Linked DNA regions of Homo sapiens. The protein of the gene in region 2 purifies or fractionates together with the protein of the main gene of each other region. This does not show direct contact. Each region holds a gene or a part of one and is shown on either strand. Other genes may lie near its edges.

Region 1 (3,652 bases), on a different chromosome or scaffold from region 2:
AGTATGGCTAGGCGCGGTGGCTCACACCTGTAATCCCAGCACTTTGGGAGGCTGAGGTGGGTGGATCACCTGAGGTCAGGAGTTGGAGACCAGCCTGGGCAACAAGGCAAAACCCCATCTCTACAAACATACAAAAATTAGCTGGGCATGGTAGCAGGCACCTGTAACCCCAGCTACTCAGGAAGCTGAGGCAGGAGAATCGCTTGAACCTGGGAGGCAGAGGTTTTAGTAAACCAAGACTGCGCCACTGCACTCCAGCTTGGGCGACAGAGCGAGACTCTGTCTCAACAACAACAAAAAAAGAAAAACCAGAATCAAATCTTCATGACATTGGGTTTGACCATGATTACTTGGATATGACACCAAAGACACAGCCAAGAAAAGAATAAACAAAGACATTGGACTTAGGGAAAATGTTAAAAATGTATACCTCAAAGGACAATACCGGCAGAGTGGAAATGCCACCCACAGGCTGGGAGAGAAAAAAAATATTTTTTTATTTTTTCATTTTTTGAGATGGAGTAGCGCTCTGCCACCATGGCTGGAGTGCAGTGGCACGATCCTGGCTCACTGCAACCTCTGCCTCCCGGGTTCAAGTGATTCTCCTGCATCAGCCTCCTGAGTACCTGGGACTACAGGCACACGCCACCACGCCTGGCTAATTTTTGTATTTTTAGTAGAGACCCGGTTTCATCATGTTGGCCAGGATGGTCTCGATCTCCTGATCTCATGATCCGCCTGCCTCAGCCTCCCAAAGTGCTGGGATTACAGGCCTGAGCCACTGTGCCCAGCTGAAAAAAAAATGTGTTTAGAGACAGGATCTCACCATGCCCACACTGGTTTCCAACTCCTGGTCTCAGGCAATCCTCTCGCCTCTGCCTCCCAACGTGCTGGGATTACAGATGTGAGCCACTGCTCCAGGCTGGAGACATTTTTTTATTTTTTATTTTTTTTTTGAGAGGGAGTCTCACTCTGTCTCCCAGGCTGCAGTGCAGTGATACGATCTTGGCTCACTGCAACCTCCGCCTCCTGGGTTCAAGCGATTCTTGTGCCTCAGCCTCCCAGGTAGCTGGGATTACAGGTGTCTGCCACCACACCTGGCTAATTTTTGTATTTTTAGTAGAGGGGGATTTTGCCATGTCGGCCAGGCTAGTCTCTAACTCCTGGCCTCAAGTGATCTGCCCGCCTCGGCCTCTCAAAGTGCTGGGATTACAGGCGTGAACCACCAGGCCGGCCTGTGCTGCTTTTTTTTTTTTTTTTTTTTTTTTTTTTTTTTGAGACGGATTCTCGCTCTGTCTCCAGGCTGGAGTGCAGTGGCGAGATCTCAGCTCACTGCAACATCTGCCTCCCAGGTTCAAGCGATTCTCTTGCCTCAGCCTCCCAAGTAGCTGGGACTACAGGCGCCCACCACCACGCCCAGCTAATTTTTGTATTTTTAGTAGAGACGGGGTTTCACCATGTTGGCCAGGCTGGTCTGGCACTTCTTGACCTCAGGCGATCTGCCCGCCTCAGCCTCCCAAAGTGCTGGGGTTACAGGCGTGAACCACCAGGCCCAGCCTGTGCTTCTATTTTTGATCGGCCCAACTTCTGATCTGTATTCAGTGTCGTGTGGGCCCCTCGCTGGCAGGTGGTAATAGCGTCCATGATTATCCATGATCCTAATTAGCGTGTTGGGTTCTATGATCCACCCAGAAGTGGTTGAGGTTTTCGGTGGTGCCCGAGGTGGGGAACCAACAGTTCCTCATGGAAAAGGTGCCCAAGAAGGAGACACCCAGCTCCCAGTGCCCTCTCCTGGGGCATCCCGGGCAGAACAAGACAGGCCATATAGACGCTTCCGGGTGTGTGCTGTGTAGATGGGTTCAGCCTCTTGCTCGTTTTCATGGGTGACCACCTTGCCAAGTCGTGTCCCTATGTCAGAGGGCAACGGACAGGGGCTAATTCTGGAAGGTTCCTCGGGGAACCTGATGTGGGTGTTTGGGTCCTGCCAGCTCAAGGGCCGGTGGCCGAGTCTAACGGTCTGAGTGGTCCCCTGACGCTCTCCCCTGGGGGCGGGCATGGCGGTCCCACCTCACGGCCACCCGCGTTGCTTCTGCAGGTTTCTCTACTCGGACGAGGTGCAGATTGGCCCGGAGACGGTGATGACCACGCTATACACCGCCAAGAAGTACGCGGTGCCAGCGCTCGAGGCCCATTGCGTGGAGTTCCTGAAGAAGAACCTGCGAGCCGACAACGCCTTCATGCTGCTCACGCAGGTGGGCGGGGCCGGTACGAGGCGGGGGCGGGGCCAGGCCTGGCTGGAGGCGGGGCCGGGGTGGGGCGGACCGAGGCTGGAGGCGGAGGCGGGGCCGGGGGCGGGCCCGGGAGGCAGCAGGCTCCTGCCTGGTAGTAAAATGTGTTTTGGGCCGGGCGTGGTTGCTCACGCCTGTAATCCCGGCACTTTGGGAGGCCGAGGCGGGCAGATCACCTGAGCTCAGGCGTTCCAGACCAGCCTGGCCAACATGGCGAAATCCTATCTCTACTAAAAACACAAAAAAGAGCCGGGCGTGGTGGCGGGCACCTGTAATTCCAGCTACTTGGGAGGCTGAGGCAGGAGAATTGCATGAACCTGGGAGGTGGAGGTTGCAGTGAGCCGAGATCGCACCACTGCACTCCAGCGTGCATGACAGAGCGAGACTCCACCTGAAAAAAAAAGATGTGTTTTGGACTTTTCCGTGATACTTCAAAAAATTATTGGCAGGGTGCGGTGGCTCACGCCTGTAACCCCAGCACTTTGGGAGGCCAAGTAGGGAGGATTGCTTGAGGCCCGGAGTTCTAGACCAGCCTAGGCAACATAGAGAGACCCCGTTTCTACAAAAAATTAAAAAAAGATTCAGGCCGGGCACTGTGGTTCATGCCTGTAATCCCAGCATTTTGGGAGGCTGAGACAGGCAGATCACCAGAGGTCAGGAGTTTGAGACCAGCCTGGCCAACATGGTGAAACCTCATCTCTACTAAAAAAAAATATTTCATAAATTAGCCAAGCACGCTGGTGCATGTCTGGAATCTCAACTACTTGGGGGACCAAAGCAGGAAGATTGCCTGAGCCCGGGAGGTTGAGGCTGCAGTGAGTGGAGATGGCGCCACTGCACTCCAGCCTGAGTGACAGAGTGAGACCCTGTCTCTAAAAAAAAAGTAAAATAATTTTTTTTTGAGACGGGGTTTCTCTTGTTGCCCAGGCTGGAGTGCAATGGCACGATCTCAGCTCACTGCAACCTCCGCCTCCAGCGTTCAAGCGATTCTCCTGCCTCAGCCTCCACAGTAGCTGGGATTACAGGCCCCCACCACCGCGCCTGGCTAAAAAAAAAGAAAAAAAAAAACCAGAGAGAACTTTCTCTCTCTCTCTAAGGAAATGTCAGGTAGACAGAGCAGGGCCAGGGATCTCAGGGGACCCCAGTTGGGCTCTGTGCAGCCCAAAGGGCGGGGGCTGGGGAGGTCGTGCAGGCCAGGGAGGCTGAGAGGACGTGGGGCCAGTACGGGTGGACGGCCGCTTGGGAGCCGTGAGCTCCTGGTCGGGGGTGGAGGGTGGCCAGAGGGGACAGCGGCACTGGGTCCTCCAATGGGCTTTGGGGGTCCGGCATCCTGGAAAGGACCCAGAACCTTCTCCCCCTCCATC
Region 2 (3,652 bases):
CACTTCATGAATGAGGGTATCATATATTTAACATTTAAAACATTATGACACAATAAATACCTTTTAAAGGTATGTGGCAAAATAAAAATATACTCTGATTCGAGCTGGTGTTTGGAAAAAATAAAAATATACATTAAACAATGAAGTCTCGGCTGGGCACAGTGGCTCACACCTGTAATCTCAGCACTTTGCGAGGCCGAGGTGGGTGGATCACTTGAGGTCAGGAGTTCGAGACCAGCCTGGCCAACATGGTGAAACCCCATCTCTACTAAAAATACAAAAAAATTAGCCGAGCCTTGTGGTTGCACACCTGTAATCCCAGCTACACAGGAAGCTGAGGCAGGAGAATCGCTTGTACCCAGGAAGTGGAGGTTGCAGTGAGCTGAGACCAGCCTGGGTGACAACAGTGAAACTCTATCTCGAAAAAAAAAAAAAAAACACACACACAATGAAGTCTCTTCTTTCCTTTATGATGGAGAAATGATCATATTCATTCTATTTTTTTCTTTTTACCATCTTAACTCCCGAGGAAAAACGTTTTATATTTTTATTATCAATGTTATAAATCCAATTCTAAGACTTTGCACACAAAAAATACCAAGGGAGATAGTATAATATCTCAAGCTTGTATTTTCCTGAAATTATTGGGAAAAAGTAGAACTAGACTTAAGTAGATAACAGGAAAATACAGTATTATGGTGTTTGTATACAAAAAATAATCCAAAACAGATAAAAACACACGCTCAAGATGGCACCCACATTATTCCAGAATAAAGTTATTTACATATATACAAACGATTATATGACTAAATAAATGAACATTTTCCTAAAACATGCATATTGTGAAGCCTTTTATAATTAAACCTATAAAATCAAACTAAATTGCATATTATCAACTGTCATGATTACAGCTTTCTGCACACCAGGAGAGTTAACATTTTAACATCTGTTCTACAAAACTGAAGATAAAATGTCATCAAACTCAGCATTTCTCTAGAAAATTTTATATACCTCAGCAACCTGTCATACTGCCTGTCGTCAAATAAATGGACTCTAAAATGTACTTATTCTTTTCAGAAAAAAATTTTTTTTGTAGAGAGGGGGGTCTTGCTATGTTGTCCAGGCTGGTCTTGAACTCCTGGCCTCAAGTGATCCTCTGGCCTCAGCCTCCCAAAGCACTGGGATTACAGTTGTCAACCACCACGCCAGGTCTCTTTTCTAAAACTTTAATTTCCACTATTGCTCTTTTGAAACCATTTTAATCAAGTCACATTTCTTAGAAAAAATTCACTCAGGGTTCTGAAGGAATTAGTTATTTTCTACAAGCAACTCTGTCATGAGTGATAGAGTTGTAGCTCTCTTAGAAGTTTTTTTCCTCTTTCAAAGAGAATGAGAAATATGCAGAGATTTCCTTACTGACTCACTAAATGTAAAGATTAAGAGGACATAATAAAATTTTGGACTACAGTAGCATATAGGTTTTCAGTTTATTTACTACTAACTAGCTATAACTTAGACAAGTCATTTAACATGCTGTGCTTTAGTTTCATCTTTGAAACAAAGAGATTCGAACAGAAATCTCTTAAGCTTCCTTCCAACTCTTACATGGTATGATTCTGTGCTTCTGCAGGAATTCTTAATTGATAAACTGAATCTTCCATAAATCAAGAGAACTGATGTGTACTAAAATAGCACAGCTGAACTAAACCTTTCCTTGTTAGGAAAAAAACACAAAGACCATGTTCAAAGCTTAACTTTCCAAACCTTACTAGACCCATTCCCTCTTCAGCCAACCAAAGAATAGCCCATAGAGTTAAAACCAAATATTTTAATTATATAAATTACTTTTAAAGTATAATGTAAACCCATTAAAATATATTAACTCTATGCCAGTTTTCCTACACTCTAATTTACAGTATTTTCATTTTATCTACATTCAAGATAATATGTACAGTTAAGGAAGGGGCTATTTAATATTCTTGCACTTCTAAACACTAGTAAAAGTTAAATAAAACACAGACGAAGAACAGAATATTAACAATTATCATATTGTGCCAAATTTTTAATGAAAGTATGCTGAGTACTATTTGTGGGCTAAAGAAACAAGGCAAAGGTAAAAAAGGAAATCCTGCTAACAAGTGCTGATGATCAAATGAATTTAGTTGTGTTTTTCCATAACTTAAAAAAGACAGGAGGGAGAGGATTTTAGCAGAAATCTATTTAGGTAATACTGAATCATGACATTCCAGCAGCTTTTATGAAAAACTAATGTATAAAGTAGTATTTTGGTACTAGTGCAGTGGAAATTGGTTTTTCTTTGTCTAACTATGGACAGCAAGTGAGGCACTTAACTTTAAAATAGAAAAATAGGGTATATTTAAGAAGACATTCAAAATCATTCAGAAAAGATAATTAGCACTATTGAAAAAAAGTTAGAAATTCCATTTTTATTTAACATGCATTCAATGTTACACATGTTTCACTAAGGAAAATCCTTCTGAAAGTAAGATTACTCTTTTATTTATAAGAAACAGAAAATATTTCCTTTTCAAGGGATTCTGGATTTCTAAGAATAAAATCCAAGTCGTCTCAACCTGAGTGCTACGTATTTATAAACTGAGAAAAATACGTCTTACCATACAGGAAAAATGTTATGACTATCAACAAATACCATGAGCTGGGAGCAGTGGCTCTTGCTTATAATCCCAGATACTCGGGAGGCTGAAGTGGGAGATCACTTGAGCCAGGAGTTCGAGGTTATAGTGAACTATGATCATGGCACCGCACCAACAGAGCCAGCCTCCATCTCTTTAAAAAACAATAACAACAAATGCCACGTACCATGTGATCCTCAACTTTATCCTTGAAGGATCAGATGCTTTTATTTTACATAACTTCAGAGAAGGGCACCTAATGACTACAACAGAATAATAGATATTTAGCACCTAAATTTAGAGATGCTTAAGTATTGCCATAGTTTTAAATAGCTGTATGTCTGTAAGTTGAGGGAAACCAAATACATGTTGTTAAACGATATTATCCTTAATTACAAATGCATCTACCTACAATATTCAAACACAATCTTATTTCTCCCTGAAGTTGCAGACATATATATATATATATATATCCCTTTTAACAAGTAAAGTGAGGTTTATTATTTCTTCACCATCATTAAATTGTCTTCCAAATGTGGAACTTTTTCAGGTTAGACAAAAAGTAGTTCCTAAAAAGTCATTCATATTCGACCAGTAGTATTACTTTAAATGTTCTTCACTATGGGACAGAGGTCAAAATTGAAGTGAATGGCCACGGACCTTCTGCTGAAATATATAAGTAAAAATAAGCAGGAACAGAGGAGATGAACATACATTAATTTCTGACAACATGTTGGCACAAAAATGCTTACCTATAGGGTGAAAAAGCACTTAATGAGAGGATAAATATTTGCCATGAGAGTATTTCAAGTGAATGGAGACTAGTGTTTCCTTTCTTCATATCTAAGTGAAATATTCTTGTGTTGCCTAAGTAAACTTGACTTTAATCCTGGATAGAACACTTTACTTCATATGTTAAAACTGATGCATGACATTAACTGAAGTTTTCCATGAGACAATTTAATCATCCCCATTGAGAAATCTTATAATCCTACCTT

The links.
Region 1: the proteins of CEP97 (region 2) and BTBD2 purify together in Homo sapiens (affinity purification with western blotting, with the first as the bait; one study listed by BioGRID). This does not show direct contact.

Annotation. Positions count from the first base shown.
Region 1 is NC_000019.10:1,991,620-1,995,271, reverse strand, and holds part of BTBD2 (BTB/POZ domain-containing protein 2), read left to right. Parts: intron 1-2,095; coding exon 2,096-2,252; intron 2,253-3,215; coding exon of another isoform or gene 3,216-3,395; intron 3,396-3,652.
Region 2 is NC_000003.12:101,766,114-101,769,765, reverse strand, and holds part of CEP97 (centrosomal protein of 97 kDa), read right to left. Parts: 3' UTR 1-3,652. UniProt on the Homo sapiens protein: Acts as a key negative regulator of ciliogenesis in collaboration with CCP110 by capping the mother centriole thereby preventing cilia formation. Required for recruitment of CCP110 to the centrosome.